3 separate regions of the Homo sapiens genome follow, and all the other regions are linked to region 3. The links come from fine-mapping of genetic effects on gene expression. A gene starts in region 3. Each other region holds a variant in brackets. All regions are shown on one strand. Distances are from middle to middle.

What was found. PIP is the estimated chance that this variant, and not a neighbour inherited with it, causes the effect.
Region 1: its variant is the best candidate, but not a certain one, in a credible set for the expression of ZKSCAN2 in esophagus muscle (GTEx, PIP 0.57).
Region 2: its variant is the best candidate, but not a certain one, in a credible set for the expression of ZKSCAN2 in whole blood (INTERVAL, PIP 0.85).

What each region holds. Positions count from the first base shown.
Region 1 is chr16:25,284,072-25,289,299 of GRCh38, forward strand. No RefSeq gene overlaps it. Among named protein-coding and RNA genes, the nearest start is that of ZKSCAN2, 29 kb to the left of the region's middle. The variant ATATT/A (reference allele first, on the strand shown) is at 2,843.
Region 2 is chr16:25,338,643-25,343,870 of GRCh38, forward strand. No RefSeq gene overlaps it. Among named protein-coding and RNA genes, the nearest start is that of ZKSCAN2, 83 kb to the left of the region's middle. The variant C/T (reference allele first, on the strand shown) is at 3,025.
Region 3 is chr16:25,255,698-25,260,925 of GRCh38, forward strand. ZKSCAN2 (zinc finger with KRAB and SCAN domains 2) reads right to left here and starts at 2,148. Exons shown (of 7, transcript NM_001012981.5): 1 at 1,032-2,148. The coding sequence starts at 1,430. It overlaps ZKSCAN2-DT (ZKSCAN2 divergent transcript), which reads left to right and starts at 1,880. Exons shown (of 1, transcript NR_170220.1): 1 at 1,880-5,228. RefSeq lists enhancers at 1,514-2,074, 2,490-2,809, 2,930-3,009 and silencers at 1,760-1,999, 2,080-2,279.

The sequences.
Region 1 (5,228 bases), 28 kb after region 3:
AGCTCATATGGAACCAAAAAAAAAAAAAAAAAAGCCCCAATAGCCAAAGCAATCCTCAGCAAAACAGAACAAAGCTGGAGGCATCATAGTACCTGACCTAAAACTATACTCTAAGGCTACGGTAACAAAAACAGCATGGAAGTGGTATGAAAATAGAAACATGGACCAATGGAACAGAATATAGAACCCAGAAATAAAGCCACACGTTTACAACCAACTGATCGTTGACAAAAATAAGCAATCGAGAAAGGACCCTTTATTCAATAAATGGTGTTGGGATAACTGGCTAGCCATATGCAGAAGAATAAAACTGGACCTCTATCACCACATACAAAAATTAACTCAAGATGGGTTAAAGACTTACATGTAAGACCTAAAACTAAAAATTCTAGAAGAAAATCTAGGAAACACCATTTTCGATGTTGGTCTTGGGAAATAATTTATGACTAAGTCCTCAAAAAATTTGCAACAAAAACAAAAATTGACAAATGGGACCTAATTAAATGAAAGAGCTTCTGCACAGGAAAAGAAACTATCAACAGAGTAAACAGACAACCTGGAGAACAGCAGAAAATATTAACAAACTATGCATCCAAAAGAAGTGTAATATGAAACTTAAACAATTCAACCAGCAAAAAAACAAATGACCCTATTAAAAAGTGGGCAAAAGACATGAACAGACACTTCTCAAAAGAGGTGGGTAGATCACCTGAAGTCAGGAGTTTGAGACCAGCCTGGCCAACGTTGTGAAACCCCGTCTCCACTAAAAATACAAAAAATTAGCCAGGTATGGTGGCAGGCGCCTGTAATCCTAGCTACTCAGGAGGCTGAGGCAGGAGAATCGCTTGAATCTGGGAGTCGGAGGTTGCAGTGAGCCAAGATCACACCATTGCACTCCAGCCTGGGCAACAAGAGTGAAACTCTATCTAAAACAAAACAAAACAGACATACAAGCAGCCAACAGACGTAAAAAAATGCTCAACATTGCCAATCATCAGAGAAATACAAATCAAGACCACAGTGAGACCAATTAATAGCTCACACCCGTCAGAATGGCTTTTGTTAAAAGTGAAAAGATAATAGATGTTGGTGAGGCTGTGGAGAAAAGGGAATGCTTGTACACTTTTGGTGGAAATGTAAGTTAGTTTAGCCACCATGGAAAGCAGTTTGGAGATTTCTCAAAGAACTTAAAACAGAACTACCATTCGACCCAGCAATCTCATTACTGGGTATATACCCAAAGGAAAATAAATTGTTCTATCAAAAAGACACATGCACGCATGGGTTCATCACAGCACTATTCACAACAGCAAAGTCATGGAATCAGTGTAGGTGCCCATCAGTGGTGGACTGAATGAAGAAGATGTATACACCATGGAATACTGTGCAGCCATACAAACAAACAAAATCACATCCTTTGCAGCAACATGGGTACAGCTGGAGGCCATTATCCTAAGCAAATTAATGCAAGAACAGAAGACCAAAGACTACATATTCTCACTTACAAGTGGGAGATAAATATGCTCATAGATGTAAAGATGGCTACTACAAATAAAGTTGCTACGAACAATCACAGATCAGTTTTTGTGTGGGCATAGGTTTTCATTTCTTTGGGGTAAATGCCCAGGGGTGGGTACAATTGCTGGGTCATATAGTAAGTGTATTTTTTTTTTTTTTTTAAAGAAAGTGGCAATCTATTTTTCCATGGTGGCTATACCATTTTTACACTCCAGAAATATACAAAAAATCTAGTTTCTCCACATCCTTGCTGGCATTTGATACTGTCACTGTTTTTTATTTCAAATGTTCTAATAGATGAGTATTGATAGCTCATTGTGGTCTTGATTTGCATTTTCCTAATGGCAAATTATGTTGAACATTTTTCCTGTGCTTGTTTGCCATTTGTATATCCTCTTTGGTGAAATGCGCCTTTTGCCCATTTTCTTTTTTTTTTTTTCTTTTGAGAAGGAGTCTCGGTCTATCACCAGGCTGGAGTGCAGCAGTGCAATCTCGGCTCACTGCACCCTCCACCTCCCGGGCTCAAGCGATTCTCCTGCCTCAGCCTCCTGAGTACCTGGGACTATAGGCACGCACCACCACGCCCGGCTAATTTTTGTGTTTTTAGTAGATACGGGGTTTCACCATGTTGGCCAGGATGGTCTCAATCTCTTGACCTTGTGATCTGCCTGTCTCAGCCTCCCAAAGTGCTGGGATTACAGGCGTGAGCCACTGCACCCGGCTGCCCATTTTCTAATTGAATTATTATTATTTGTTTAATGTTCAGTTTTGAGAGTTCTTTATTCCAAAGTGGCCTTTTGTTAGATATGTGATTTGCAAATAATTTCTTCCAGTTTATAGCTTATCTTTTTATCCTTTTAATGAAGTCTTTTACAGAGTAAAAGTTTTTCATTTTGAAGTCCAATTTATCAATTTATTCTTTTATGAATTACACTTCTGGTGTCATGTTTAAGAGTTCTTCATGTGCTCCAAAGATTTCCCCTTTTGTTATCTTCTAAAATATTTATAGTTTTACATTTTATGTTGAAGTCTATGATCCATTTTCAGTTAGTTTTTATATAAGGTGTGAGATGTAGGTCAGAGTACTTAAAAATTTTTTTTTGCTTCAGCACCATTTGGAGAAAATATTACACTTCTTATATTGAGTTGCTTTTGCATCTTGTAAAACATCAGTTGGTTGATGCAAAAGCAGAGGGGTGTTAAAAAATCAGTTGGTTGCACTCATGTGGCACTATTTCTAGGTTTTTTATTCATTTCCATTGATCTCTGTGTCTCTCCCTCTGCCATTATCACATAGTCTTTATTACTGTAGCTACCTCTATTA[ATATT/A]TATTTATTTATTTATTCATATATATATTTTGAGACAGGGTTTTATTTATGTCACTCAGGCTGGAGTGCAATGGTGCAATCTCGGCTCACTGCAACCTCTGCCTCCCAGGCTCAAGTGATCCTCTTGCCTCAGCCTCCCAAGTAGCTGGGACTACAGGTGCACGCCACTGCACATGGCTAATTTTTCTTCTTTTATTTTTAGATACAAGATTTTAGAGACGGGATTTCACCATGTTGCCAAGCCTGTCTTGAACTCCTGGCCTCAAGCAATCCAGCCTCCTCAGCCTCCAAAGTGCTGGGGTTACAGGTGTGAGTCCCTATGCCTGGCCTTACTGTAGTTACATCTAATAAGTCCTGATATGAGGTAGAGTGATTCCTCTACGTTTATCAATGTCTTTTGAAAATTGTTTTGGTTATTCTAGCGCCTGGCCTTTCCATATAAATTTCAGAATAATTTTGTCTGTATCTGTAGAAAATTTTGCTGAAATTTTGACAGGAATTCTGTTACATTTGCATCTCAATTTGGGGGGAATCGGCATCTTTACTGAGTCTTCTACTCATGAACATGTTATGTTTCTCTGTATATTTAGATCTTTGATTTAATAGTTTTTGGCCTGTAATTCATATACATATTTAGTTAGATTTACACATAATTGTTTCATCTTTTGAGCAATTATAAAAGGCATTATATTTTTAATTTCAGTTTTCATGTGTTCATTGTTAATACATAAATACACAAATAATTTTGTATCTTTCTCTTGTATCCTGTAAACCTGCTGAACTTATTTATTTATTTATTTTTGAGATGGAGTTTTGCTCTTCTTGCACAGGCTGGAGTGCAATGGTGCAGTCTCGGCTCACTGCAACCTCCACCTCCCGGGTTCAAGTGATTCTCCTGTCTCAGCCTCCCAAGTAGCTGGGATTACAGGTGCCCACCACCACACCTGGCTAATTTTTGTATTTTTAGTAGAGACAGGGTTTCCCCATGTTGGCTAGGTTGGTCTCGAACTCCTGACCTCAGGTGGTCCGCCCACCTCGGCCTCCCAAAGTGCTGGGATTACAGGTGTGAGCCACTGTGCCCAGCCAGTTCCAGTTGTTTTTCTATAGATTCCTTGGAATTTTCTGTGTAGACTGCTATGCCATTGGCAAATATGGACCATTTTTTTCCTTCCCTTCTTATTAGTGTGCTTTTTATTCTCTCTCTCTTTTTTTTAACCTTATTTCACTGGCTAGAACTTCCAGCACTATGTTGAATAGCAGTGGTGAGGGTGGATGGCCTCCTTTTCTTCCCAATTAGCTCATTCTTGTAAACACAGTTGTGTATGATGCAATGGAGAGACTAAGCATGGGTGTCAAAATCAATCTAACCCATGGTCAAACCAGATCTCACAACATACTATCTATGTGATCTTAGAAAAGTGGCTTTCTCTCTGTATGTTTCCTCACCTTCAAGGATTAGATAATACTATCTATGCCCGGGCTGGGCGTGGTGGCTCATGCCTGTAATCCCAGCACTTTGGAAGGCCAAGGCAGGTGGATCACCTGAGTTCAGGAATTCGAGACCAGCCTGACCAACATGGTGAAATCCCGTCTCCACTAAAAATACAAAAAATTAGCCAGGCGTGGTGGCGGGCGCCTGTCATCCCAGCTACTCAGGAGGCTGAGGCAAGAGAATCTCTTGAATCTGGGAGTTGGAGGTTGAAGTGAGCCGAGGTTGCGCCATTGCACTCCAGCCTGGGCGACACAGCAAAACTCTGTCTCAAACAACAACAACAACAACAACAACAAACCAACAATAATATCTATGCCTTGGCTTTGCTAGACAACACAACAGCGTGTAGAGGTTAGGAACACAGACTTTGGAGCCAGGTTACCCAGGCTCAGGTCCCAGCACCGCGACTCTCAATCTCATGACCTTGGGCAAGTTACTTGTTCCCTCTGTGCTTCAGTTTCCTCATTGGTTCAGTGGGCAAAATAAGACTAACATAAAGTTATTGCAAAGATGGAATGAGATAATAAATGTTAAGCTTTTAGAACAGTACTTGGCACATAGTAAGCACTAGGGAAGTGTTTTTGTTGTTGTGGTTGTGAGATTTAAATGAATGTGTAGAAAATACCTAGCATGGTGCAAATGCTCAGTAAAATTTTTTTCTGACACTAAATTCTATGCTAACTAAAAAAAAAAAAAAAAAAAAAAAAATTAAGCGGCACCAAAAACCTTGTAATAAAAGCAACAATGTCTTGTTTCCCCTCCTTTCCTGCTCTCTGGAGGTAAAAATTTTTTTTTTTTTTCTGAGACGGAGTCTCGCTCTGTTGCCCACCTGGAGTGCAGTGGCGCCATCTCGGGTCACTGCAACCTCCGCCTTCCAGGTTCAAGCGATT
Region 2 (5,228 bases), 83 kb after region 3:
GGGGACAACTGTATACAAGCTTTGGGCTCCATTAAATTAGAATTTGCTTGGCTCAATTTCTTTGTTTATTGACTGGCTTTCCAGTGATTGCATGGTCATTGTCTGTTTTCCTTATTACTATAACCCAGCATCTAGCGCAGTGCCTGGCACATGATAAATGCTCACTAAATATATAACAGGAAACTGTGGGTAAAGCAGTTCTCAGCAAACTCCTCCATTCCCAGATCAATCCTGGGACATATGCAATGCCTATTATGAGGACTTAGCGTTGCTTGAGCCACTGGGGCTCGCGTTCCCAGGAATGCCTACCAGTGTCTCAGTGTCCTCTATGTTCATGTGCTTCCTATTTTCTTTTGCTATTTTTCTATCACAAGGGTTTCAGTATCCAAAAACATCAAGTCTTGTTTTTCGCTAGCTTTAGTTTGCAAGATTGGAATTTTATCTTGGTCCTTTTTCCTGAATTTCTACTTGAGCCCTTTATGGTTCGTTTCCAAGTCTGGAGTCTTGATTCTGAATCCTAGCCCCCAAGGAAGGGTTTCCTAATCTTGGATCAATCTTCCCGGTGTTAATTGCCTTGTTGCCTGAGTTCTAAGAGGTGTCCAGTGTGGAGGCCCAGACTTGGACGTCTTATCATCTCTTGGATCCATGATTAATTAATTCCCTCAACAAATCTGTATTGTATACTATGTGCTGGGCATTGTGTTAAGGTGGACAAAACAAAAATTATCATTGACTCTGCAGAGCTTTCAGTCTAGACTGGGTTGGGGGAGGAGTAAGAGAGAGACAGAGAAACAGAGAGAGGAACCAAGCAATCAAACAGACAAGTGAAATGATTTTAATAACAGTGCTGTAAAGACAGTAACTATGGGATTGAGATAAAGAACACCTGGGGGGCTGGGGGATGTGTGCCACCTTGGATTTGTGGCCAGGCCATGCTGAAGAGGTGACTGGAGTTGACACCCAAGGAATGAGAAGATGTTAGCCATGTGACGAGTGGAGAAAGTACATTTTGGAAAGAGGGAGCAAATTGCATGAAGACTCCAGGGTGGGAAAGAGCTCTGTGGGTCTGAAGAACTGAATTAAGGCCATCTGGGGAGAGAATGGTGATGGAAGGAAGATGAGGTTGTAAGTAGGGGCCAGGTGCTGCAAGGCATTTAGGCCTTGGTAAGGAGCGTGGATTTTCTCCTGTGTATTATGGTAAGGCACATATGTGTTTAAGCAGGGGAAACTCCTAATAAGATTTATGTTTTTTAAAATTTTTCAACTTTTATTTTAGAATCAGAACATACATGTGCAGGTTTGCTGCAAAGATATATTGCATGATGCTGAAGTTTGGGGTAAGAATGATCCCATTACCCAGGTGAACATAATACCCAATAGGTAGTTTTCAGCCTTTTGCCCCCCTCCCTCTCTTGCTCCTCTAGTAGTCCTGTATTAGTCTGTTCTCCAGCTGCATACCCAAGACTAGGTAATTTATAAAGTAAAGATGTTCAATGGACTCACAGTTCCACATGGCTGGGGAGGCCTCACAGTCATGGCAGAAGAGCAAGGGACATCTTACACAGTGGCGGGCAAGAGAGAACTTGTGCAGGGGAACTCCCCTTTATAAAACTATCAGATCGACTGGGCGCGGTGGCTCACACCTGTAATCCCAGCACTTTGGGAGGCCGAGGCAGGTGGATCACGGGGTCAGGAGATTGAGACCATCCTGGCTAACACGGTGAAACCCCGTCTTTACTAAAAACATAAAAAATTAGCTGGGCGTGGTGGCACGCAGCTGTAGCCCCAGCTACTCAGGAGAATCGCTTGAACCTGGGAGGCGGAGGTTGCAGTGAGCCAGGATTGCGCCACTGCAGTCCAGCCTGGGCAACAGAGCGAGACTCTGTCCCAAAACAAATAAACAAACAACAAAAAACCATCAGATCTCAGGAGACTTATTCACTGTCATGAGAACAATATGGGAAAGACCCGCCCCCATGATTCAATTACCTCCCACCGGGTACCCCGATGACATGTGAGAATTATGGGAGCTACAATTCAGGATGAGTTTTGGGTGTGGACACAGCCAAACCATATCAAGTCCCCAGTGTCTGTTGTTCCCATCTTTATGTCCACACTTACCCAATGTGGTACATATACACCATAGAATACTACACAGCCATAAAAAGAACAAAATCATGTCCTTTGCAGCAGCATGGACCCAGCTGGAGGCCATTATCCTAAGCAAACTAACGCAAAAACAGAAAACCAAATACCACATGCTCTCACTTATAAGTGAAAGCCAAACAGAGGATTTATGTTTTAAGAATATTCTTCCTCCTGCTTTGCAGAGAATAAGTGCCAGGGCAGGGCAATCTCTATGCAGCCCTCCACGGTTTATGCAAACCACAATGTGAATGGTACCCTCTGGGGTGTTTCCTGGAAGCAGCACTTCTAGAAAGGCAAGAGTGGAAGGAGAAGATGATTTCAGATGGCTCTCCATGTGGGCTGTGTATTATACCTCCCTGGGGAGTTGCTAAAGACACAGTCACTCAGGGGTGTCTCCACCCTCAGGCTATTGTAAATCAGAGCCTCTGGGAGTGGGGCCAGGCATCACTGTAACTAGTGTTGCGAACCATAGCTTTAGAAGGATGTTACATCAGCCCAGGCAAGAGATGATGGTCATTTGGACTAGGATAGTGGTAGTGAAGAGAGAAAGAGGTGGAGGAACTTTGAGGTACAATAGACAGGCTTGGCTAAATGTGGATAGGGGATGAACGTGAAGAATCAAGACTTACTCCCAGGTTTCTGGTTGGGGAATTACTAGAGCAATGGTTCTCACTCAAGCATGCTTCCGGATCACCTGTAAGCCTTGTTAAACCACCTTCCAATCTAAAAAGTGACAAAATAGATGGAAAGAAATGAAGTTTTGAAGTTTTGTTAAATTGGAAAGTTTTCAGCCATGATTTCTTTAAAAAAAAATGTTATTTGTTATTGTTGTTGTTGTCCTATCCTCTTTCTTCTGTCTTTCTGGTTCTCTTGTGA[C/T]AAAAATGTTAAATGTTTTGCTACAGTCCCACGGGTCCCCCGGAAGTGGAAGTCTGGGCTGTCTCACTCAGTCTGCTGGTGTGGTTGGACACAGGGCCACAATTTTTCTATGGTGTTTGGATGTAGTTAAGTGGTTATATTGTCCAGAGTTTTCTCTCTTGCTAGATTGCTCTTTTCCTGTTCTTTTTTGTTTTTGTTTTTTGGCAGAAAGATTGGGCTTTTATACAGGCTTTTTTGTTAGCTTCTTCAGCTTCAAGTCTGGGATACACAAAATGAAAAGAAACCAAGTGAGCAGATCCACGTGTTGTTCCTTGATCCCCAGCCAGTTTGCTTTCTCCTCATTTCAGAATCCTTTGCTTGTTTTATATGTAATGTCAAGGGTTTTTAGTTTTACTTAGTAGGAAGAATAGGGAAAATATATCTTTTTTATCTTCCCAGAGGCACAAGAACTGAAACCAGTTTCTAGAAAAAAAAAAAAATGTCTATTGGTTGGGCACAGTGGCTCAAGCCTGTAATCCCAACACTTTGAGAGGCCAAGGCGGGAGGAACACTTGAGCCCAGGAGTTCAAGACCAGCATGGGCAACATAGCAAGACCTCTTCTCTACAAAAAAAAAAAGAAAGAAAGAAAGAAAGAAAATTAGCCGCGCATGGTGGTGTGTGCCTGTGGTCTGAAGCTACTCGGGAGGCTGAGACAGGAAGTTCGCCTGAGCTCAGGAGTTTGAGGGTGTAGGGAGTCATGATTGTGCTACCGCACTCCAGCCTCGGTGACAAAGTGAAACCCTGTCTTGGAAAAAAAACAAACAACAAACAAACAAAAAACAATTTATAAGAGAAAAGTCTCTCTCTTATTGTATCTTCTTTTCCAAAAAAGTTATGAATGTTAAGAGCCTAGAGTATATCCTTTTATTCTTTCTCCATACACATTTACAAATATGCACATGCAAACACACACACACAGAATATTTGTCATTGTTTTTACCCAAACGAAATCATACTGTATATATTCTTGCAACTTCCTTTTCTCATTAATAATACATAATGGATACCCTTTTGGGCTAACAGTCATAGATCTAACTCATTCTTTATATTAGCTACTTAATATTCCATAATATGGAAGAGCCATGGTTACTTAACTTGTTTTTAGTTTTATTGCCTTCACAAATAATAATTTTATTTATATAGGATAGATTACCAAAAAAGGACAGATCAAGATAAACAGTACATGTACTATTTTTTTTTTTTTTTGAGATGGAGTCTTGCTCTGTCACCCAGGCTGGAGTGCAGTGACAGGATCTTGGCTCACTGCAACCTCCACCTCCGAGGTTCAAGAGATTCTTATGCCTCGGCCTCCCAAGTAGCTGGGACTATAGGTGTGCACTACCACACCTGGATAATTTTTGTATATTTTAGTAGAAATGGATTTTGCTATGTTGGCCAGGCTGGTCTCGAACTCCTGGCCTCAAGTAATCCATCTGCCTCAGCCTCCTAATATGCTGGGATTACAGGCTTGAGCCACCACGCCCGGCCAGTATATGTACTTTTAAGTTGAATAAACATGGCATGGTTATGGTTCCACAAAAGGCTCTGATGACTCACATTTCCCCAGTGACATGACAATATATGTTTCTTCTAGCATCTTGCCAGCTCTGGGAGTTTCCTCTCATTTTACTTTTTTTTTGTTTTTTTTTTGAGGTGGAGTCTCGCTCTGTCGCCCAGGCTGGAATGCAGTGGCACAATCTCGGCTCACTGCAAGCTCCGCCTCCAAGGTTCATGCCATTCTCCTGCCTCAGCCTCCCAAGTAGCTGGGACTACAGGCATCTGCCACCATGCCCGGCTAATTTTTTTTTTTTTGTATTTTTAGTAGAGACAGGGTTTCACTGTGTGAGCCAGGATGGTCTCGATCTCCTGACCTCATGATCCGCCTGCCTCAGCCTCCCAAAGTGCTGGGATTACAGGCATGAGCCACTGTGCCTGGCCTCATTTTAAATTTTTGCCTTTGTCGGGGTGAAATAGTATCTCATTTTTAATTAACATATATTTATTGGCCTGTTCCTGCCTTTTTCCATTTTCCTGTTGGGTGTTAGTATATTTCTCATCAGTTTGAGAGAACTCATTTAGCAGTTTTATTTGTTATATGCATTGCAAATACATTGTCTCTGTTTAACTCCAACCTATTACCAGAGCATCTGTGAACCTTTCCTCT
Region 3 (5,228 bases):
CAGCCTCCCAAGTAGCTGGGATTACAGGCATGCACCAACACAACCGGCTAATTTTATATTTTTTTAGTAGAGATGGGGTTTCATTATGTTGGTCAGGCTGGTCTCGAATTCCTGACCTCAGGTGATCAACATGCCTCGGCCTCCCAAAGTGCTGGGATTACAGATGTGAGCCACCGCGCCTGGCCAGAATAATATTTAATACTAAACAGAGAAGGAAATCTGTCAGGAGTGAAAGAGCCTCCTTGTTGCTAGAATAGATATTATTTGACTCTATATCTGTTACGTTCGCAAAGAAGTTACCAGGACATGAATATATACAGTAGTGAAATGAAAACTTACAAAATTAATATCCACATCTATCTGTCTATCCCTGACCAATACAGCAACCTGCTGATAGATCTCTACACAATGCAAGTCTGATGCAAGGTGAAACCGCAAATCTTGCAAATGCTGCAGGATTTCACGAGGTTCATGAAAGTGAGGTTGAAGAACAACTAGAAGAGCATGCAAGCCACTGAGAAATGAAGATGTGGCAGTTAGACTGGAGGAGAGTGACAGAAATGAAGGCATGAGAGCACTTCAGAAGACACTGAGTGCAACAGTAAAACGCTTGGAGACGGCTCTGGGATAACGGATGAAGTCTTTTTTTTTTTTTTTTAAAGGGGGAACAGAATAGCCTTTTTTGATCAAAATGCGTAAGTGAACCTCTGTGACGCAAAACCATATTGTTCTCTTATATTGTTTTGTTGCAAACATTATGCCAAAGATGACGATAAATGCTTAGGTGAATAATGTCTGGTTTCCATTGTAAGATAATATTTCAATCAAAGCTTTTATTTTTCTATTTCATGTGAAATTCTGATCCCCTTTTAAGTGGATTCACTTAAAGTGAAAAGACCCCCTTATAGGGTCTTTTATTAGTACCATTTATCTTTCTCTGAAGAGCACGTCTTTCTGCAATACATCCCTGCCCACATGCCTTTCCCATTCCCTTTTTTCTAAGTACAAAAATTTGGAAAATCCTCTCTCACCTGCTGTCTTAGTCTTCCAGTCTCTTTCTCCAAATGCACTACCAGGGCCACCGCTTCCTCTCCACTTTGCGGACACTGCTTCTGTGCCCAAGCCTGAATCTTCTCGGGTAAAATGGTGAGAAACTGCTCAATCACCAGCAGCTCAAGTATTTGCTCCTTGGAACGCATTTCTGGCTTCAGCCACCGGCAGCAAAGTTCCCAGAGTTTACTGAAAGCTTCATGGGGTCCAGTCACATCCTCATAACAGAATTGCCTGAAGCATTTGCGGAAGGTCTCAGAGCTATCCGATCCTTCCAGAATGGGCTCTGATGCCCACTCAGGGTCCTTTTCCACCTTCATTATTAGGCATCCCTCAACCTCCAGGGGCGCGTCGATCTGAGAGTCGAGGGCGACAGCCATGCTGCAGCCCAGGGGTCAACTTCACGTCTAGCTCAAGGTGGGGACCCAAAGAAGACTCCAAGCGCTCCCTGCTTAATGTTCCTGGGAGTGTGATAAGGTACGGAGGTAAAAACGGCCAGGTCGGCAGGAACAGGGTATTCCAGGCTGATTAATCAAATCTATGCCAGGCCCTTGAAAAGGTGAACGTATACTCTAAGATGCAAAAGCCTGGCCTCTTCTCCAAACAAGATGTGACCGCGCAATGTGGTTTTCCAGAGTGCATCCCTCTTAGTGCAAAGTCGGAAACCGGGAGGCTGGACGACTGGGAGAAAAATGAAGCAGGCTGAGGAAAGGCTGGGCGGAGGCGGACAGCCGGGCCGGGAGGGGGTGTGTCCGCTACTCCCGGGTCGGGCGCGGAGAGGCGAGTCCCCGAGTGGGTGGGGCCGGATGTGCAGGCCCCGCCCGGCGCCAGGTTCCGGGCTCGGGTCACCGCAGCACGTCCAGGCCGCCGCGGGTGCCGCTGGGGCCGCCGGATTCCGAGAGCGGCGCCGGGCTCTTTCGGGCCCACGACGGCCCCGACCGTCCTGAGGAAACCGCTGCCGCCGAGGAAAGGCCGCAAAAACTGTTCCGCCCGGAAGGGAGAAGAGCTGCGGGGCGAAGCCAGGGCTCGCAGGGGGCAGCGGCAGGCTGCTCGCGTTCGGCCTCGTCCACTCGGCCCGCGGAGAGCGCGGGGGGCGCTGGGAACCGCAGTCACGCATGCGCCGCCTGCCACCGAGCGCCGCGGGGCCCGCGCGAGGCGTCCTGGCGGGCGAGGGGCTGGGGGAGGGGGGGGGGGCCGTGCGGTGGACTCTCGCGAGAGCGCGCGGCGCGGTGACTCGTCGCTGAGGGACTTTAAGATTGTAGAGGGGCGCGGAGGGTCCTCCCCGGGGCGGAGGGACACAGAGGGATTCTAGGGAACCTGCCGTCGCGAGTCCCGCTTCAGGCGGAGAATCTAGGCGGCGGCGGGGCCTCCCTGAGGCGGAGGAGTCGGCACCGGGGCCTGGCTGCCGGGGAAGGAGAGCACGGGAGCGGGGACTCCTGTGTCTGGCGGAGGGACACGGCGTTCCGGTGGAGGGATCTGTTCCTTGTACCTGGTCCAGGGTTGCGGTCGGGGATGGAGCGGTTACCCCGACCCTGCGGGACCTTCTTCCTCTGGCGGAGGTGCACGGCGCGGCGTGGTGTTTTTCTGGCGGAAGTATCTGTGCGTGGCCCCAGGCCCTTCCCGGCGCGGTCTCATCTGGGGCCACTTGTTGGCCCTCGCGTTGGGGAGGTTCATGTGGTGCATCCTGATGAGAAGGGGGGTCACAGGGGTCTCGGGGCCAGGGTTCAGCCAGCCAGGCCCCAGCTTGCTCTCTTCTGGTGCTGCCCCTGTCCCTGAATTCATAGACCCGGCTTTCCCTCTCTTGAGCACCTACTATGTGCCAGGCTGCGCTTTGCGCATGTAGCAGAGGCAACAGTGTCACCTGGGAAGCTGGTTTCCCCCAAAGGAACTCTTGTCTGTCCGTTGTTGCAGAGCCAGCGCATGAGACCAAGTGTGAGTATCAGGCAGTGCAGCCTTCATTCAGTGGCCATGGAATTGGAGAAGTGGGAGGGTAGCTCGCAAATCAAGCTCTCAGCTCTTGGAAACTGAGAAGTTACAGGTAATAGGGAGTGTTGACGAAAAGTAAAACCGTGCAAAATATTTGAAGAGATTTATTGTGAGCCAAATACGAGTAACCACAGCCTGTGATACAGCCCTCTCGAGGCCCTGAGAACATGTGCCCAAGGTGGTCGGGGTGCAGCTTGGTTTTATGTTTTAGGTTGGCATGAGACATCAGTCAAATACATTAAATACATTGGTTTGGTCCAGGAAGGCGGGACAACGCAAAGGGGTGGGGGTGGGGGCTTCCAGGCTATAGGTAAATTTAAATATTTTCTAGTTGACAATTGGTTGAGTTTGTCTGAAGACCTGGGATTGATAGAAAGGAAGTGTTCAGGTTAAGATAAAAGATAGTGGAGACTAAGGTTCTTTTGAAGTCTTATGGTGGCTGCTCTTAGAGATAATAGATGACAAATGTTTCCTATTCAGATCTTCAAAAGGTGTTAGACTTTTAGTTAATCCGTTTAGGATTGGGAGGGCCTGGAAGAAAAACATCTAGCTATGTTAATAGATGTTCTTTACAGATGCACATTTTACCCCACAAAGGATAGCTTTTGGGGGAAAATGCTGTCCTTTATGGAAGAAATTGCAAAATAGGGCAAGGAAACATGTTTTGGGGTAAAATATTTTGACTTTCTTTTTGTCACGTAATGTTATGCCAGAGTCAGAATGGAAAGTAAGTCATCATATATAGGATTAAATAAAACCCATCTGATGAGAATTTATGGTTTGTAGGTCATGACTCCCCAGATCCCTTAGATAGGAATTTGGGCAGGATTAAAAAAATCAAGAGTTTAGGCTGGTCGTGGTGGCTCACGCCTATAATCCCAGCATTTTGGGAGGCCAAGGCAGGTGGATCGCTTGAGGTCAGAAGTTTAAGACCAGCCTGGCCAACATGGCGAAACCCCGTCTCTACTAAAAATACAAAAATTAGCTGGGCATGGTGGCACACGCCTGTGATTCTAGCTGATTGGGAGGCTGAGGCATGAGACTCAACTTGAACCCGGGAGGCGGAGGTTGCAATGAGCTGAGATTGTGCCACTGCACTCCAGCTTGGTTGACAAAGTGAGACTCTGTGTCAAAAACAAAACAAAACAGAAAAAAAAAACAAAAGAATCAGAGCTTAGTCGTCAGGTGTCCTTAATGAAGGGGCTGGGCATTAAGAGCAAGGCGAGGAGGCAGAAGGAAAGCTTGAGCCCAGGAATTGGAGACCAGCTTGGGCAACATGGTAAGACCCTGTCTCTAAAAAAAATAAAAATTAAGAACAAGAGGAGGAATATTCATGTTTTTTCTTGGGAAGGGAGGTAGATTTTCCTGGAATCAAGGAGCTGCCCCTTTTTTTGTCCTTTTTTTGGTCTCTTCGGGTCATCACGGTGATTGTCAACTGTCATGGCAACCAGTGGGAATGTCATTTAGTACTGAAGTTGGATTAGAATGAAGCTAGAGGTTCTTCAGAGGTCGAGTAAGCTAAGAAGGAACCTATGACCACAGACAACCTGTTTTCTAAAAATAAGCAGAGTTAAATCTGAGTAGGAATTTAGCTATGTCATGGAGGCATTGCATTGGGTAACAAAAGCCAGGTAGGCGTCCAGCTAAGTCCCCTAGGCCCTGCAACGGGTAACAGCAGTACTGACTCTATGTTAGAGAAAAGCTTGCTTGCTTGAGTATAATTATTGTTTTGCCTGAGTTTGTAAACTATTCACTAAAAACAGCCACAGAAAAAAACAGGACCTTCTTCAACAGATAAAACACACAGACCCGCAGCTTTGGGAACAGGCTGATGGCCCCTGCACAGTCTAGTCACAAGGCATTGACCAAGAAAGTAATGACTAACTGCCCATCTGAGACTGCGCATGATTCACAAGAATGTTTCTTTGTTTTGTTTTTTGAGACAGTCTTGGTCTGTCTCCCAGGCTGGAGTGCAGTGATGTTGGTTCGCTGTAGCCTCTGCCTCCTGAGTAGCTGGGACTACAGGCGTGTGCCACCGCACCTGGCTAATTTTTGTATTTTTAGTAGAGATGATGTTTGACTATGTTGGCCAGGATGGTCTCGAACTCCTGACCTCAAGTGATCCACCTGCCTCGGCCTCCCAAATTGCTGGGGTTACAAGTATGAGCCACCGCTCCTGGCCCACAAGAATG